2 separate regions of the Homo sapiens genome follow, and region 1 is linked to region 2. The links come from fine-mapping of genetic effects on gene expression. A gene starts in region 2. The other region holds a variant in brackets. All regions are shown on one strand. Distances are from middle to middle. Region 1 overlaps EPN2 (epsin 2). Region 2 holds the start of SLC5A10 (solute carrier family 5 member 10).

Region 1 (9,365 bases), 340 kb after region 2:
CAAACAAGTGTTATATGGATTGCATTTCATCCTTTAACTGTTGGGTGTGGCATCCTCTCCACATCTCACTCCCTCCCCGTCAGAGGGTAGGGGGCTGTCGGAGTCCAGGGCAAAGATTCTGGCCATGTTTCTTCTCTGTTCTTTCTTGATGCTTCACAAAGGGTTGAGTATAAGGTAAGTGCTTAATCTATGCACACCAGTGGATTTGTTTGGAGCACACCTTCTTGGAAATCAGCAGTGGGAAGGTCAGAATGATGCCGGCCATTCAGAAAACTGTCAGGTGAGATGCAGGCTGTGATTCAGGAGAGATGTTTGTGAGGGGTGCATTTGGGACTGCAGACCCCACAGAGGCAGAGGAGGCAGACTGCTCAGAAGCCCTCTTCACATGAGAGCAGCCACAGCCGGGAAGGCCTCTTGTGTGACTGGCGATAATCATGAGGATGTCTGAGGAGAGCTTTCTTTCATGTGCCATATGTCATCTCATCCTCCCTGTGCCCCTCCCTCTCTCTCACCTCCCACATAGATCTGTAGATCTGACCTTGGAAGTCTCTTGAATTGTCCATCTTGTTCCATGGCCTCAATTCAGTGCCAGCCTTCTGACCAATTTCCTGCTGTCATTATCTCCCAGTCTCACCTACCCTCCATCTTCATAAAGGATGCCCTGGTCCTGAGTCTCAGCCCCTTTAGATGCCAGGCCCTGCAGGGCCATCCCAGAGCCTTTGACGTTGCAGACCTCAGTTGCTTCCACCAGCTGTGTCCCCTGCCCTCAGTCTGGGGGTCCTCCTGTTCCGGCGGAAGCATTCCAGACCTTCCCAGGCCTGCTGACGTCTGCCTGCAGGCACAGCTCTGGGCTTTCCTTTTGAAGCCTGGTCTACCTGCCCTCTGCTCTGTATTTATTGAGTTCCCATGGGGCACCAGGCACTGAGCACAGAACAGAGCCCCTTGCCCTCGTGGAGCTTATATGGTAATGGGAAAGAAAAACACAATATAAATTATTCAGCATGTTATGTAATGAGCGCTCTGGAAAACAGCAAAACAAAAACAGTCTTGCTTGAGTGTCTTTGGGGAGGTAAGAGAGGGTGGCTTGCAGTATGAATGGATCAAGGATTGAAGGAGTGTGAGGGTGAGCCTTGTGGAGGTTGGAAAGAGCCTTCCAGGCAGAAGGGCAGCTGTGCAAAGGCCCTGAGGTGGGAGTGTGCTCAGGGTGTTTGAGAAAAGGCAGCCAGTGAGGTGGCGATGAGTGACGGAGCATGGCCAGTATGTGGGGGTGGAGCGTGGCAGAGGTGGGCCTGGAGGAGGTGTGGGGCAGGGCCTCTCAACTCTGTCTGGTTGGGAGCATTCCTTGAATTCCTAGTCCATCCAGACGGGTCCTTTTGTGTCCATGTTTAGATGTTGTGCCGATGTCATTGCTAGGAGCTTTTGAAACACTTTCACTGTGCTTACCTTGCAGACCATGCACTCAGTGGCCCGGTGCTGGGCCTTCTGGGTTTATGTCAGAAATTTCTTTGACTTTCACTCACAGTGAGATGGGGGAAGATGAGGGTTAGGAGGATCCCTTGGGGTGTGTATGGGCAAGGTGGGAGCAGGGAGCCAGGTCAGGAGGCCACTGTCCCCATCCAGGTGGGAGATGGTGGGGGTCTGGACCTGGCAGGGCTGCAGAAATCTGGGCAGTAGCCAGGTTCTGGGTATGTTTTTTTTTTTTTTTTTTTTTTTTTTTTGAGACAGAATCTTGCACTGTCACCCAGGCTGGAGTGCAGTGGCACGATCTCCGCTTACTGCAAGCTCTGCCTCCCGGGTTCACGCCATTCTCCTGCCTCAGCCTCCCAAGTAGCTGGGACTACAGGCGCCCGCCACCACGCCCGGCTAATTTTTTGTATTTTTAGTAGAGATGAGGTTTCATCATGTTAGCCAGGATGGTCTTGATCTCCTGACCCCGTGATCCGCCCACCTTGGCCTCCCAAAGTGCTGGGATTACAGGTGTGAGCCACCGCACCTGGACGATTCTGGGTATGTTTTAAAGATGACCTGACAGACCTTGCTAGAGGACTGGGCAGAGTGAGAGGGGAGCTGAGGATGACTCTGAGGGCTGGGAGCAGAGCAGCTGGAGGCAGAGCTGCCATCATCTGAGATGAGGGCGGCTGTGGGTGCAGTAGGTTAGTGGAGGGGTTGAGTTCAGGACACATCGAAGTGTCTCCTAGACACGCAAGTGGAGGTGTCAAGAAGGTCTGAGAAGTCTGGAGTTGGGGGGAGAATTCTGGGCTGCAGGCACACTTTGGAAGTTGTCAGGGCATGGACAGTGCTTATAGCCGTCAGCTGTTCGGCCTCACCTGGCGCTCATGGTTTTTTTTTTTTTTTTTTTTGAGATGGAGTCTCACTCTGTTGGCCAGGCTAGAGTGTAGTGGGGTGATCTGGGCTCACTGCAACCTCCGCCTAGCTGGCTTCAAGCTATTCTTCCTCAGCCATCTGAGTAGCTGGGATTACAGGCACATGTCACCATGCCTGGCTAATTTTTGTATTTTTAGTAGAGATGAGGTTTCATCATGTTGGCCAGGTCTTGAACCCCTGACCTCAAGTGATCTGCCCAGCTCGGCCTCCCAAAGTGCTGGGATTACAGGCGTGAGCCACCATGCCTAGCCTCTGGCACTCATGTTTACTTGGTGGTCTTGTAATTTCAGACACACCAGCTGCCCTCCCAAGGCTGGCTCCTCTTAAGGCTTACCCGTGTTGGCTGCCCTCACATGATCCTGGCATGTAGTCAGTGCTCAGGACAGTTGTGTGTGGGCAGAAGCTGCGCAGCCCAAAGGAGGACCCTCAGGCCCAGGGGGTTGAGGGATTTGCCTAAGATCACGCAGAGATGGCAGCTGGCCTGAACTGCAACCTGGTGGGGGTGAGCAGCCCACATGTTACCCGCCCCCCGGGCTCTTTCCACCATTTCCTGTTCTGTTCTGCAGAACTGGCCACAGTGTCAAAAGGCTTTGGAGAAATTACAGAAGTTCTTGGGGTAGACGGAACCTACATCAAAGGGAGGCAGATGGGGATGAGAAAAGCATTCCTGAGTCAAGGAATGGAAAGAAAGATTGCTGCTGTCCTCTCACCAAGGACACTCTAAGGCCAGGGGCCAGATCTTCTGCCTTGGCTGGCCTCTGTTGAGGGTGGGTAAGGGAAGGAAGGAATGCTCAGCTTGGTGTTCTCAGCCCCCTTGCTGAGTCTGCGGAGCCAGAGCTACAGCTGTCTTGATGCTCCCTGAGCAAGTCCCGAGTTGCCTGGTACCTTGCAGTTCTTGGTGGGAGTTTAACTGCCCAGCATTCCCGTTCTCAAAAAAAAAAAAAAAGAAAAAAAAAGAAAAAGGAAGGCAGGCAGAATAGAAATCTTCATTGCTTTCTGATTCACTCAAGTGAATCAGAACCAACTTGGGTTCTGAAACCAAAGTAAGCAGTGGTGGGCTTTGTACCAGGTGGGGGCTGCTGCCTGCAGCCGGGTCTTCTTGGCTCTCCTCATGGCCCCTCCTGTCTTGCTGACGCCGCTGGCCCTGGCTGTAGTATGCTTCAAGTCTGCTCCCAGAGAAATGACAGGGATTCCTTTGGGCTACTGGTCCTCTGGGCTGAGAGCCCCTTGTGCTGAGGCTGCTCCTCTCACACCCCACCCGGCAAGGGTTTGCCAAGTGATTACTAGAAAGGATTTGAGTTGGCTTATAAAACACATGCAATGCCACAGGATTCAATAGATACCAGAAGAAATTGGGGCAAAAGGAAAACAGAGGTGAGAAAGAAAAGCCAGGATTGTATACAGTGGCTAGAGATGGATCCAAATTTGGTTTGATACTGTGCAGCTGGGAAGGCCAGAGTGTCAAGCAGCCTGCCCAGGACTTCATGGAGCAGTGGCCGTGATCATTGTCCTGCGGCATCACCCCAACAGCTGCTGCTGCTGTCCGCCAGGCCTTCGGGCCATGCCTCCACTCTCGAGTGGCCTGGCAAGAATCTAAGGGGAAACAGGATTTCTCAGGGAGTGGAATGGCAAGGCTATCCACGGTTATCAGCCATTCATTTTTTTTTTTTTTTTTTTTTTTTTTTTGAGACGGAGTCTCGCTCTTTCGCCCAGGCTGGACTGCAGTGGCGCTATCTTGGCTCACTGCAAGCTCCGCTTCCTGGGTTCACGCCGTTCTCCTGCCTCAGCCTCCTGAGTAGCTGGGACTACAGGCGCCCGCCACTGCGCCCGGCTAATTTTTTTTTGTGTTTTTTGTAGAGATGGGGTTTCACCGTGTTAGCCATGATGGTCTTGATCTCCTGACCTCATGATCCACCCGCCTCGGCCTCCCAAAGTGCTGGAATTACAGGCGTGAGCCATCGCGCCCGGCCTCATTCTTAAACCCAATGGGGACTTGGTAGAATTTGAAAGCTTTCTTGTGCGCTGTTTCATGAGTATGTCCAGGAAGTCCCCAGGCACAGTGGGCCCTCAGAGGACTCTCTACGGAAGCTGTCTTCATAACAAGGGAACCTCAGGGGTGAACCAGAGTTGTCATGGCCTCAGCCCTGCTTGCCCAGCTCTGGGAATAGAGCTGAAGCATGCGCACACACAGACACATGTGCACTTACACCAGACATGTACACACAAAGGAGAGTGTTTTGGTAAGAAGGAGGCATCTGAAAAGGGAGTCCTACATGGGTCTACTTTTGAAAACTCAAAGATGTGGGAAAATATATTGTTAAAAAAAAGAAAAGCCAAACCCAGCCAGCGTGTCAGAAGTGCTTCTGAGGTGGACCTTGGAAGGATCCTGGGCCAGCTGAGGTCTCCTGAGAGTGTGGGAGGTGACAGAGCTCCAAGGTGCAGGGCTGAGTGATGCTGCCAGGAACTAGGAGGGCAGCAGGGCCCGCCCGGGGCTGAGAGGTGGTTGGTGGCCACCAGCCAGGTATTTCCTAGTGTCAGGCCAGGGATAGCTACCTGTGGGGAGTGTGTCTAGCCCTCAGGGCCCTTCCATTGGGTTTTGGGGATGGACCAGGAATTTGGTGGGAGATGAGACTCATTTGGCATCTTGTTTTGGTGGAACAAATGTGTTCTGTAAGTCAGGGGAGCCCTGCATCTTCGGCTGGCAGTCAGTCCCAGGGGCAGAGGCACAGCAGGGCTGTCAGCGTTAGCTTACTCTAGAGAGAGTTAATCTCTTCAGGTGGAAAATTGAGTCATGGAGGAAGCTGATCAGTAACATGAACACACCCTCAGAGGCAGCAGATTTATTGACACATCTATCCAAGTATCAGGTATAAAAGATGCTCGTTCTTGCCACAAGGGCTTGGGTTTTAAGTGGGATTTGAATGTGATTCGTGAATGGCTGGGCTGCTAAAGTCAGACAGTTGCCCA[A/G]CACAACCAGAAGGCATCTGGATCACCTCTCCTGGGCCTTTGCCTTCTCTTAGGAGGAGTCCATTTGCTTCTCACAGTTGTCTAGAAGGTAGGCAGGGCAGATGAGGTTAATAAGGAAACTGACATGAACTTGCTCCCCTAAATCCTCTCATTTGTAAGTGAAGAAGCTAGAATTAGAACTGGGATTTTGAAGAACTCTGGTTCTCTTTCCTCTACTTGACAGTTTTTGAAATTGCTTTAAAATTTTTTCTGCAAAATAGGCAAATACGGTGTACACCTATTACAATTTTAAAATTATATGGTTCATCTTATATAATGCTTTTTTCTGTATTATTATTTTTTTCTTTTTAAGATGGGATTGGCTGGGCAGGGTGGCTCACGCCTGTAATCCCAGCATGTTGGGAGGTTGAGACGGGCAGATCACCTGAGGCCAGGAGTTCGAGGCCAGCTTGGCCAATATGGTGAAACCCATCTCTACTAAAAATACAAAAAAATTAGCCGGTCATGGTGGTGGGCACCTGTAATCCCAGCTACTCAGGAGGCAGAGGTGGGAGATTCGCTTGAACCTGAGAGGCAGAGGTTGCAGTGAGCCGAGATCACTCCAGCCTGGGTGACAAGAGCGAAACTCCATCTCAAAAAAAAAAAAAAAAAAAGACAGGGTCTTGCTCTGTTGCTCAGGCTGGAGTGCAGTGGTGTGATTGTGGCTCACTGCAGCCTCTACCTCCCTGGGCTCAAGTGATGCTCTCACCTTAACCTCCTGGGTTGCTGAGACTACAGGTGCATGCCACCATACCCAGCTTTTTTTTTTTTTTTTTTTTTTTTTACTTTCTGTATTTTGTAGAGGTGGGGTTTTGCCACGTTGCCCAGGCTGATCTGGAACTCCTGGGCTCAAGCTATCCTCTGGCCTCGGCCTCTCAAAGTGTTGAGATTACAGGCATGCAGGCACAAGCCACCACACTCAGCCAGGAATACCTAATTAAACCATTATTTAATTGGGCCCCAGATCTTAAGGAGCTCCTCTGATTGTCAGAATATGGGATTGTTCTCAGAATTGAAACAGTGCTATCAAGGCTGGGCGCGGTGGCTCATGCCTATAATCCCAGCACTTTGGGAGGCCGAGGCTGGTGGATCACTTGAGGTCAGGAGTTTGAGACCAGCCTGACCAACATGGTGAAACCCCTGTCTCTACCAAAAATACAAAAAATTAGTCGGGTGTGGTGGTGGATGCTTGTAATCCCAGCTACCCAGGAAGCTGAGGCAGGAGATTGCTTGAAGCTTGGGAGGCAGAGGTTGCAGTGAGCTGAGATCGCACCACTGTACTCCAGCCTGGGCAACAGAGCAAGACTCTGTCTTTAAAAAAAAAAAAAAGAAACAGTGCTATCAAAATTGCTGATTGGGAGGCCGGCTGCAGTGGCCCATGCCTGTAATCCTAGCACTTCGAGAGGCTGAAGCAGGTGAATTGCTTGAGCTTAGGAGTTTGAGACCAGCCTGGACAACACAACAAAACCCCATCGCTACAAAAAAAAAAAAAATTAACCAGGCATGGTGGTGTGCACCTGTAGTCCCAGCTACTTTGTGGGGCTGAGGTGGGAGGAATCGCCTGAGCTCAGGAAGTCCAGGCTGCAGTGAACCAAGATTGTGCCACTGCATTCTAGCCTGGGTGACAAAGCGAGACCCTTTCTCAAAAGAAAAAAAATATTGGGGATTGGGTTATTGATTAAATGATTGACATTGGCGTGTGCCATAGAAAATGGATCAATACAATATTTACCTGTTTTTTAAGGATCCTTTGTAGTATAGGTAAACAAACTATTGTTTATAAACTGTCAATAAGTGTAGAAGGTTTCTCGATGCTTTAAGGTTGAGTTTAGCAACAGTATGATACATAGTTGTTAGTTTTTGTTTAGTGATACAAGGCAGTTCCTCATTTTGACAGTTGCCTTTTCTTTTTTCCCTAAATCACTAGCTCTCAAGCTTTTAAATCTCCCAAAATGTCCCAAATCCTGGGCCACACCTTTGCCACACTTCTCAAATGAGAATCTCTGGGAGGGCCCCAGGTACTGCGGTGGCACTGACAGCATTGTACTGGGGGCTGCTGGTTCCCTGTCAGATGTTTTAAGTCAGATTGGCTAGCATAGTCACAGCTGCTGACGGTGTCTTTATTCATGGATGCTCAGTACAGCAGTTGCTAGTTTCAAATAGACAACTTCCAGGAGGCATTAAAAAAAAATTATATGACTAGAAACAGGAGGGAAGGCATGCAGATAGATTTGTCTTCCCATGGGAAGTAGGCCATATAAGTTAAATCTCTCTCTGTATCATATCCTTTTTTACTATCTTCAGAGTCTTTTTCACTACCTGAAATTCTCTTATTTGCTTTGTTTTGTCTCCCTGCACTAAAACAAGCTGTTAGAGCAGGAGCCCCGTTCATGCCCCGTGCTGTATCCCTAGTGTCTTTAGCACAACACCTGAACCAGGAAAGGTGCTCAGAACATACTTCATGCATGAGTGCTAAATAAGCCTCTCTTCTCCTCTCTCCTCACCTGAGGGCAGGAGTTCGAGACTAGCCTTGCCAACGCAGTGAAACCCCATCTCTATTAAAAATACACACACACACACACACACACACACGCGCGTGCGCGCAAAATAGCCAGGTGTAGTGGTGCATGCCTGTAGTCCCAGCTACCTGGGAGGCTGAGGCAGGAGAATCACTTTAACCCAGGAAGTGGAGGTTGCAGTGAGCCGAGATCGTGCCATTAGACTCCAGCCTGGGTGACAAGAGTGAAACTCCCTCTCAGAAAAAAAAGAAAAGAAAAGAAAAAATACATTTGAAGTCAATTCCAGAAATATAGGAATGCCTTATATATTTGTGTGGTTTCTCGATGCTTTAAGGTTGAGTTTAGCAACAGTATGATTCATAGTTGTTGTTTTTGTTTAGTGATACAAGGCAGTTCCTCATTTTGACAGTTGCCTTTTTTCCCTAAATCACTAGCTCTCAAGCTTTTAAATCTCCCAAAATGTCCCAAATCCTGGGCCACACCTCTCCCACACCTCTCAAATTAGAATCTCTGGGAGGGCCCCAGGTGCCGCGGTGGCACTGACAGCAGTGTGCTGGGGGCTGCTGGTTCCCTGTCAGGCTTTAATCAGTTGAAGGGCTCTTCCTCCCCTCTCCCCTCAACTCATGGCCCGTAGCAGTGTCTTTTTACAGAGTTACAGGCAGCTAGGCAACACTCCAACTTGGAGCAGCTTGGAAATTGATATTACACATCAAATTAGTCTCCTCCTGCTGACTGCTAATGGAAAGCTTAGTCCAGCTTAGTCCAGCTTGCAGTGGGATAACCAGAGCTCCTCCCGCAAGTCCACTCTGCGACCTGCTTCTCCAAGTACAGTGAGGGCATGAAGTCATTCATTCTATTTTTTTTTTTTTAAACTGGGACAGAGTCTCACCCCGTCACCCAGGCTGGAGTGCAGTGGCGTGATCTCGGCTCACTACAACCTCTGCCTCCCAGGTTCAAGCAATTCTCATGTCTCAGCCTCCCGAGTAGCTGGGACTACAGGTGCGTGCCACCACGCCCAGCTAATTTTTGTATTTTTAGTAGAGATGGGGTTTCATCATGTTGACCAGGCTGGTCTTGAACTCCTGACCTCAGGTGATCCACCCACCTCTGCCTCCCAAAGTGCTGGGATTACAGACGTGAGCCACTGCGCCTGGCTCCTGCTAGATTTTTGGTACAAATGTAATAATGTATGTCCATTCATGATAATTGGGAAAATGCAAAAAAAATAGAAATAGAAAAAGAAGAAAAAAATCCTTCAATCTTAACTATAATATGCAAAGACAACTGTTATTCACATGTTGGTGTATTTATTTTTATTTTTATTTATTTGTTTTGAGACAGTGTCTTGCTGTTGCCCAGGCTGGAGCATTGTGGCACAATCATGGCCCATGCAGCCTCGAACTCCTAGGTTCAAACGATCCTTCTACCTCAGCCTTGCCTAGTAGCTGGAAGTAC
Region 2 (9,217 bases):
AGAGGATGAAAAATGCTGGAATAGGCTGGGCGCAGTGGCTCATGCCTGTAATCCCAGCACTCTGGGAGGCTGAGGTTGGTGGATCACCTGAGGTCAGGAGTTCAAGACCAGCCTGACCAACACGGTGAAACCCCGTCTCTATTAAAAATACAAAAATTAGCCAGGCGTGGTGGTGCGTGCCTGTTATTCCAGCTACTCGGGAGGCTGAGGCAGGAGAATTGCTTGAACCCAGGAGGCAAATGTTGCAGTGAGTCGAGATTGCGCCACTGCACTCCAGTCTGGGTGACAAAGCAAAACTCTGTCTCAGAAAAAAAAAAAAGAAAAGAAAAATGTTGGAATAGGTAATGGCGATGGGTGCATAGTGTTGTGAAGGTGGTGGAAACCACAGACTGGTGTACTTTAAGGGGTTAAAATGATGGATTTTATGTTAAATGCATTCTCCCTCAATAATGATAAAAAAAGAATAGGTTTCTGGGATTGAAGGGCCTCAGGGGCCTCAGCATCTGAAGATTCCTCAGTTGCCTGGGCTCCTTGGACCTCTTGCAGTGATGTGGCAAGGGTAGACCCTGTGCCGGTCACTGGAGGAGCGGGGTGACGGGTGGGTGGGGGCAGATACTACTGTGTCGTGTGGCAGCACAGCCACTAGCCCAGCAGGGCCAGGGATGCACAGAAGAGGGAGGAGCCAAGGAAGGCTTCAGAGAGGCAGTGATGTCTCAGTACCGTCTTGAAGGATGAGTAGCAGTTCACCAAGCAGACTGAGAGGTAGGGGGACTTGAGGACACCCAGGGAGGAACTGAGGGCAGCAGAAGATGGAGCTGGGTCGGGGGAGGGCCAGGTTCCAGGGCCCCTGGTGCCGAGCCCAAGGCCTTGCACTTGATCTCTGGAGCAGTAAAGGCTGTTGAAGGTAAGTTTGAAACAGGAGTGTCATGTCCAGGGTTAGGCTTTTAGGGTGTTCTGACATACTGTGCGTGGTGAGTAGATTCAAAAGGATAAGACTGGAGGCCAGGGATCAGTCCCTCCCCACCTGTGCTGGACGCCTGGTCTGCATCGGTTCCATTACCTCCCAGCAGCCCTTCCCGGCTGCCTTCACTTCCCTTCCACTCTGCTGCTCTGCCGGCTGAGCTCAGGGTCCTCCCATCCAGGTGCCCACTCAACCACTCCCTTCGAGGGCCTGAGGCTTAACAGTCCAACCTCCATCACTCCCTGCACAAACCCAACCTCACCCAAAGCTCAGTGGGCTTGGCTGGGACCCCAGGGGAGGAGGGGGGTCATTCCTTCCCACTGAATACCTGTCACGAGCCATGCTGGGTGGTGGAGTTTAATGTTAAAAGGGCAGATTCGAGAGCTGGACAATTTGGGTTCAAAGTCCTCCTCTGTCTCTTAGTTGCTGTGTGACTTTGAGCAAGTTCCTCTGTTTCTCTGTGCCTCGGATTTTCCATCCCTCAAGGAGTTGGGAGAGTTGAGGGTGGACGATGCGTGGGCACATGGTGACTGCTCGGTAGGTGTCTGTAACCATGGTAAAGATGAAGCTGTGGGCTGGCCCCTGGGGTCCCAGCCGAGCCCACTGAGCTTTGGGGAGGGTGGGTTTGGGTGGGGAGTGATGGAGGGTGGACTCTCAAACCTGAAGCCCTCAAGGGGAGTGGTCAAGAGGGTACCTGGATGAGAGAATGCAGCGCTCGGCCAGCAGAGCAGCGGAGTGGAGGGAAGTGAAGGCCGCCTGGAAGGGCTGCGGGGAGGTGACCAACCAATGCAGATGCAGGTACCCAGCACAGGTGGGCAGGTGAGCATTCAGGAAATGGTTGTCTGGGACCCACCACCCTTCACAAAGCACCTGGCAACACTCTCCTTGAGCCTCTGTATCAGTGGAAGGAAACTGCTTGACCTGGCTGGTGAGGGGAGCCCAGGCAGGGTCGGGGGCACCCCTAGGGGCCAGCTTGCTGGTCTAAACCAAGGCCAAGGCCAGAGGTCTTACAAAAAAGCCCAGCCCACACCAAAGCATAAAAAGTGATAACTTGGGCCGGACACAGTGGCTTACGCCTGTAATCCCAGCACTTTGGAAGGCTGCTTGAGCCCAGGAGTTTGACAACAGCCTGGGCAACATGGTGAGACCCTGTCGCTATAAAAAAATACCCACAAAACTTTGCTGGCTATGGTGGTGCATGCCTGTAGTCCCAGCTACTCAGGAGGCTGAGGTAGGAGGATCCCTTGAGCCCAGGAGGCTGAGACTGCAGTGAGCTGTGATTGTACCACTGCACTCCAGCCTGGGCAATAGAGCCAGACATTGTCTCAAAAAAATAAAATAAAATAAAGTGATAATTCTCCTTTCTCCTCTCCTTAGCAGTTTGGTGTGTGTCCTTCAAAACACTGTGGCTGTTCAGCCCCTTACATTATATATAATGAGAGGATAAACATGGATATGGGTCTATATTCTCTAGCTTGCTTTTTTCACTTACAAGTGTATCATCCTTCCATGCCATTATATAAAGCCACCTCATCTTTTTAATGGTCATGGTGTTCCATGGTTTGGAGGTCTCATAATTCACTCACCACCTTCTCTGGGTGGTTATGTAGGAAATTTCTAAACTTTTTGGCTGCCCTGAGCACGCTTGCCCTTGTAGCTTAGGACTCTTGGGGAGTTTCTCCATCAGGACAGACAAGCAGACAATACTTAGCAGGAATAAATGATCAGTCTTGTGCTTATTGCAAAAGCAGGAGCAACAGATAAGCTGGAACTAGACTTGGCAGGCAGGCAGAGAGAGGCCCTGGAGGGATTCGCTGCAAGCTGCCGCAGATGACCGTGGGCTCCCTTCATGGGCTCCCTTCACTCATGTGCAGTCCGTTCCAGTGCTGCCCAGCTCATCACATGGTTGGTCATGCCTTGGTCACAATTCTGAAGCACTTAAGAAAGAAACTCATAAGCTCATAGATGCCCCACACACAAGATACAAATGGCTCCAGTCGTCCTGCTTAGGCTCTGCTGACCCCTCCACATCCCGTTCCTGGTTCTCATGAGTCTGAGGGACTTCTTCCGGGGATGGAAGAGGCTTCAAGGGGTGTGGTACGGATGACTTCTCAGCTAGGACGGTCTTCATGTTTCTTGGGGTGAGTGAATAGGTGATCCCGTTGGGTCAGGTGGGGTGGGAATGTGGGTGTGACTGGGCTTCGGGTGGCGTTTCTTCTCCCGCAGACATGGCTGGGCTTGTTTGGTACTTCTCCCTCCATGTCCTCCGCTGCCACCCTCCTCCTGTCCCCGTCCTTCAGGACAGAACCAGCAAATCAGTCTCAGCCCCTTAAGAGCACCTTTACTGGTGCTTTCTTTCCCTAGGATTTTTTTTCTCTTTTTTCATTTTTTTCCATTTAAACTCAGTGGCAAAAATCCCAAGGACTTTTGATCCAAAGGCGGCAGTTATCACTAAGTGGTTTATTTCCTTCTAAGACCTAGCCAACGGTCTCAGAGCCAATGCTGCTGGTACAACTACTCTATTAATGGGATAGTTTTGGTAAGTCTGGATCCTCCCAGCTGGGTCCTCCTGATCAGTGCAAAGCAGCCTTTTGTTTTAAAACACATTGCAAGCAATGGCTTGGGAAGTAAACACCATCTGAGGCTCGCTGGCCAGAGGCAAGGGGAGACGGCAGGCAGTTGAGCCTGCCTGAGGGTTCTCTCAGCAGTGACTTCCTTTTTCCCTTCCTTCTTCTGCCTAGTCCTGTATGTGAGGACTATTAATTGTTTTTTGTTGTTGTTGTTGTTTGTTTTGTGAGATGGAGTCTCCCTCTGTTGCCCAGGCTGGACTGCAATGGCGCAGTCTTGGCTCACTGCAATCTCTACCTCCTGAGTTCAAGCAATTCTCCTGCCTCAGCCTCCCAAGTAGCTGGGATTACAGGTGCGTACCACCATGTCTGGCTAATTTTTGTATTTTTAGTAGAGACGAGGTTTTGCCATGTTGGCCAGGCTGGTCTCAAACTCCTGATCTCAGGTGATCCACCCGCCTTGGCCTCCCAAAGGCATGAGCCTCCCAAGGGCATGAGCCACTGCTCCTGGCCGAGGGGATTAATTTTTACCCGCACCTCAGGGTTATTGAGTAACAGGCTGGCTGGGTTTGCAGGCCAGCGTGTTCCTGGTGGCAGCCGCTCACTCATTAACACTTCTGGAAGTGCTGCATGTCTGGTTAAACTGCAAATGCTTTGCAAAGTCACGAGTCATGTCACTGAGCAGAGGCGTGAGACTGCCGGCCAGCCCTGCTGTGTACACTGATAGAATTAGTGAGCGAGCGTCCCACTCTGATGGAATCCAGATGGAACTCGTCACTGTCACTGCGGTGGAGACGGTGGGGCCACATCTGCACTGAATCCTACTCTGCGCCTTCAATGGCTGCGTAATGGCGGATGGCCATTTCCTTGACTAGGATGAGACATTGCCTACTCTGCGTGGCTGCTGTGAGCGTGAAATGGGATCATGTGCGGAACAGCCACGCATGGTCCGTGAAATGGGATCATGTGCAGAACAGCCACGCATGGTCCTTGGTGTGTGACAGATATTGGGTCCCTCTGTGGTCCCAGGCAGACATTGCCCGGGGTGGGGGCCGAATGCATGGTCAAGTTGAGGGGCCTGGGACTGTTTCACGGGTCTAGAAAAAGAAAGCAGAAACGCTGGAAGCAGGACTTTATTGTCCGACATGGGGCTGCCTCTGAGCCTGGGCTGTGTTGGCTGGACGTGAGCCATAATGCAGGTGTCCCCCTCCCAAGCCCTGCTCAGTCCACTCACAGCCCGATGGCCAAGGGAGGACATGGCTGCCCGCCACGGCAGTATCTTCAGAGGTGAGGCGGTTGTCCCTACGCTCTATGCTTCTTATACAAATTAGATATAGGTGAAGCCACCCATTAAGCAACCCAGCCTTTCTGGGACTATTTGGGCTGCCTCCGGGTCCACTAAATGCGGTTCATTTTCCCCAAGCCCCCTCCGAGTTCAAGGAGGCTCCTTCCTTTCCTCCTCCCACTTGCTTCTCCCAGGCTCCCTGACTCCTGCGCTCTGGGATCTGCACCCCACCATGGGGTGAGGAAGCTGAACTGCATGGTGAGGCAGCTGCCCTGCATGCAGCCACATCATGGGCTGGAGATGCCACTGTCCGCTTGGTTTAATGATCAATGAGCTCCCTGCCAGGAAACCCTTTCTGACCTGGTTTGCCCCTCAGTCCCTCGGGCTCATACCTAGTGCCTGCGGCAGGACAGCCATGGCCGCCAACTCCACCAGCGACCTCCACACTCCCGGGACGCAGCTGAGCGTGGCTGACATCATCGTCATCACTGTGTATTTTGCTCTGAATGTGGCCGTGGGCATATGGGTAAGGGGACCTGTGGTGGTGTTGGCCAAGTGGGCTCTCAGGGTTGGTGCTTGGGGTGGGAACCGGGGTCCAGCATGTCCCTGTGGTGTCAGCATTGGTCCCAGCTGGTGGCCTAGTGATCCTTGTGGTCCTCCTCCCAGCCTGGGGTAGACTTGCTTGGAGACCTTGACCAAGCCCGTTTCTCTCTTTGGGTAATGGCGTCTCCATCTGCAAAGTGAGGAGGAGGAAATTCTCTCTAACAGGTAACTGGGCTTTTGTGCTGCTGCCCAGCTGGAGTCCTTGGGTGTGGCCCATCAGCCTCCTGGTCCCAGTCTCCATGGTGTCAGTGACTCCTGTCTGCTTGAACAACAGGCTCCCCGGGATTCCCTGGCTGCACCCCAGAGCTGCTGGATCAGAATCCGGAGGCAGGGAGGGCCCTGGGAACTGGGGGTCTTTATTTTGAACAAGCTCCCTGGGGATTTATGTCCTGTGGCCTAGCCCTAGATCATAAGCCGGTTCTTTCTCCCTTCATAACAGTGAGAAATGAGCAGAGATCTGACCCCACACACAGATTCCAGGGGCAGCGGGGCCCCTGGGGACAGGCTGTTTCATGTGCAGATGGAGAAACCGAGGCTCTGGCCCTGCAGCAAGGGAAGGGCTCCTCTGGTCTATCGTGGAGGCCTTCCTGAGGGAAGGTGGACACAGCCTGGTTCAGGTCACCTGCTCCACGCTTAGCGCCTGGGGATGTTGGGCTCCACTTCTTAAGCCCCAGAGGTCCCCAGCCTGGCATCCCTGAGCCCTGACAGTCTCCTGGGGAGAATGAGTACCCCTTCTTTTTTTTTTTTTTTTTTTTTAACTGAGACGGAGTCTAGCACTGTCACCTGGGCTGGAGTGCAGTGGCACTATCTCGGCTCACTGCAACCTCCACCTCCTGGGTTCAAACAATTCTGCCTCAGCCTCCTGAGTAGCTGGGATTACAGGCGTCCACTACCACACCCAGGTAATGTTTTGTATTTTTAGTAGAGACAGAGTTTTACCGTGTTGGCCAGGCTAGTCTCGAACTCCTGACCTCATGATTTGCCCGCCTCGGCCTCCCAAAGTGCTAGAATTACAGGCGTGAGCCACCGCGCCCGGCCGAGTACCCGTTCTTATCTTCCATAACCCCTGGCCTAAGCACGAAGGCCTGGCAAACAGGAGACTGGTCACGTCCCCTCAGCTTCCTGGGCCTCAGTGTTCTGATCTGTTATATGGAGACACCACCTACCTGGGGTGAGGTCTGCTATCAAGGGGCCCACACAGGACCAGACCTTGCTGCTGCCATTGGTTCTACAGTGGTAGCAGTGGTGGTGGTGGTGGCAGTTGTAGCAGTGGTGATTATAAGAGTAGCAGCCGCAGTCATTAAAATTAATTATCACAGGTTGGATTTCAAAAATCTGAAACCCAAAATCTGGAACATTTTGAACACCAACATGATGCTCAAAGCAAATGCTCATTGGAGCATCTCAGATTTTAGAGTTTTGGGTTGGGGATGTTCAACTGGCAGGTATTCTGTAAGTATCTCCAAATCTGAAAGAGTCCGAAATCCAAAACTTTTCTGGTTTCAAATATTTCGGATAACGGCTCCTCAACCTGTATGTGATTAAATATTAACTCACAAGTAGCCCAGTGCTGGCCATCGGCAAAGCCGAGTTCAAGTCTCGGCTCTGCTCTGTGTACTTAAGTCACTTAATCTCTGTGGGCTTCAGTTTCCTCAAACACGCAATGCGGGTTTCTGTGCAGCCCACATCTCAGGGCTGTTCCAAGGAGCAAGGGTCCAATGGAAGTGAAAATCTGTTGCAAACTGTAACGTGCTATATTCCTGTGACAGTTGGTGGCTAGAATTCAGAGGAGGAGGTGCCCACGTGGGGCAGAACAGACAGTGGAGGGTTTCTGGATGAGGGGAGGTAAGGGCCAGGCAAGATCTGAAGAGGGAAAGAGGAGGGGAGACAAGGCTGTCCTGGCTAGCACGTCTAAGAAAGATGTTCTGGGCACCTGAGGCCAGACCCTTTGTAGCCCAGTGACTTGGGCCACCAGCCCTTGTTGCCCATGACCCACCTCTCCTAGTGAGTCAGCTTGCTGTTTGCAGGCTGGTGCCCCTGGAAGTAGGGCTGTAGGAGTTCTGCCCTGTCCCTCCTAGCAGGCTAGGCTGGCCCAGCTGGGAGCGGCTGGCAAGAGAGCAGTGAGCACATCCAGAAAAGATCAGAACCAGACAGGGAGGATGCTGGAGATGCATCCCACAGGGAGAAGCAGACAGAGCAAGCCAGGCAGGTGCAGCCCTGCAAAGATGTTTAGATGGTGGGCCTGGGAGAGTCTGGCGGGGGCCGGGGGGAGGCCTTTAAGGAAGAGATGTTCCTGGAGGAGGGGACTTTGAGCTGAGCCTTTGCATTCATTAAAGTATCTGTTAACAAGTGACTGAAAACTGCTTTCAAATGAGCTCTAAGAATATAGGAAATGTAGGCCGGGCGCAGTGGCTCATGCCTGTAATCCCAGCACTTTGGGAGGCCTAGGCGGGTGGATCACGAGGTCAGGAGTTTGAGACCAGCCTGGCCAGCATGGTGAAAGCCCGTCTCTACTTTTGTATTATTTTGTGATAATACAAAAATTAGCCAGGCGTGGTGCCAGGCGCCTGTAATCCCAGCTACTCAGGAGGCTGAGGCAGGAGAATTGCTTGAAACCGGAAGGCGGAGGTCGCAATGAGCTGAGATCACGCCACTGCACTCCAGCATGGGCAAAAGAGTGAAACACTGTATCAAAAAAAAAAAAAAAAAAAAAAAAAGAATTCAGGAAATGTAATTGTGTCCAGCAATAGAAAGGGCTTCAGGTGCAGTATGATCCAGGGATTCACAGCATTATTAAGGATACAGCTACACCTCACTTTGGTTCTCTCAGCCTCCATCCATGTGTAGCTCTGTCCTAAGCCCAGCTCCCCTCGTGTCCTGATGTGAAATGACCAGCCCTGCGATTGAGCCTGAGTTGAAATCCAGGCTGCACCACTTGCTAGATGGGTGTGTTTTCATCTCTGAGACCATCAGTTTCCTCATTGGTAACATGGCACCTGCTTCATAGAGCTGTTGCGAGGACTAAGAACTCCACACAGATCAAGAAGTTGAAGCCAACTCTGGCATGGGGGCCTTCGGGGAACCTTAAATGGGTACATGTGGCCCCCAGCAACTGCCAGCAGCCCCCAGAGCCCCAGATATAAGAAGGCAACTGGCAATGCCCACTATAGGCTTGAAAGATGAGAAGGGTTAGGAAAAAGCATGGGCTGTAAACATAGATGCTTTGGAGTTGTGCAGTGCACAGCGTACACATCTGGATATGGCCATCCTGGCCAAGACTGTGAGCCTTCAGACTATGCTGCCTTTAGTACAGCAAGATCACGGCACACAAAGAGAAAGTGGTGGGAGTTGGAGCTGGAGAGAGGCAGGAGCCACATCAAAAGTTCTGAACTGGGTGTGGTGGTGTCCACGTGGTTCCTGCTACTCAGGAAGCTGAGATGGGGAGATCACGTGAGCCCAGGAGTTCAAGACCTGCCTGGGCAACATAATGAGACCCTGTCTTAAAAATAAAAATAAATAGGCCGGGCGCGGTGGCTCATGCCTGTAATCCCAGCACTTTGGGAGGCCGAGGTGGGCAGATCACCTGAGGTCGGGAGTCCAAGACCAGCCTGACCAACATGGAGGAACCCCATCTCTACTAAAAATACAAAATTAGCCGGGCATGGTGGCACATGCCTGTAATCCCAGCTACTAGGGAGGCTGAGGCAGGAGAATCGCTTGAACCCGGGAGGCAGAGGTTGCGGTGAGCCAAGATCGTGCCATTGCACTCCATCCTGGGCAACAAGAGCGAAACTCTGTCTC

What was found.
Region 1: its variant is fine-mapped to the expression of SLC5A10 in whole blood (TOPMed, PIP above 0.99).

What each region holds. Positions count from the first base shown.
Region 1 is chr17:19,287,385-19,296,749 of GRCh38, forward strand. All of the region lies in intron 4 of EPN2 (epsin 2), which reads left to right. It overlaps EPN2-AS1 (EPN2 antisense RNA 1), which reads right to left. Exons shown (of 3, transcript NR_048576.1): 3 at 9,212-9,365. Among named protein-coding and RNA genes, the nearest start is that of EPN2-AS1, 14 kb to the right of the region's middle. RefSeq lists an enhancer at 2,236-2,829. The variant A/G (reference allele first, on the strand shown) is at 5,353.
Region 2 is chr17:18,946,978-18,956,194 of GRCh38, forward strand. It overlaps SLC5A10 (solute carrier family 5 member 10), which reads left to right and starts at 5,188. Exons shown (of 15, transcript NM_001042450.4): 1 at 5,188-5,339. The coding sequence starts at 5,229. RefSeq lists enhancers at 271-884, 885-1,498.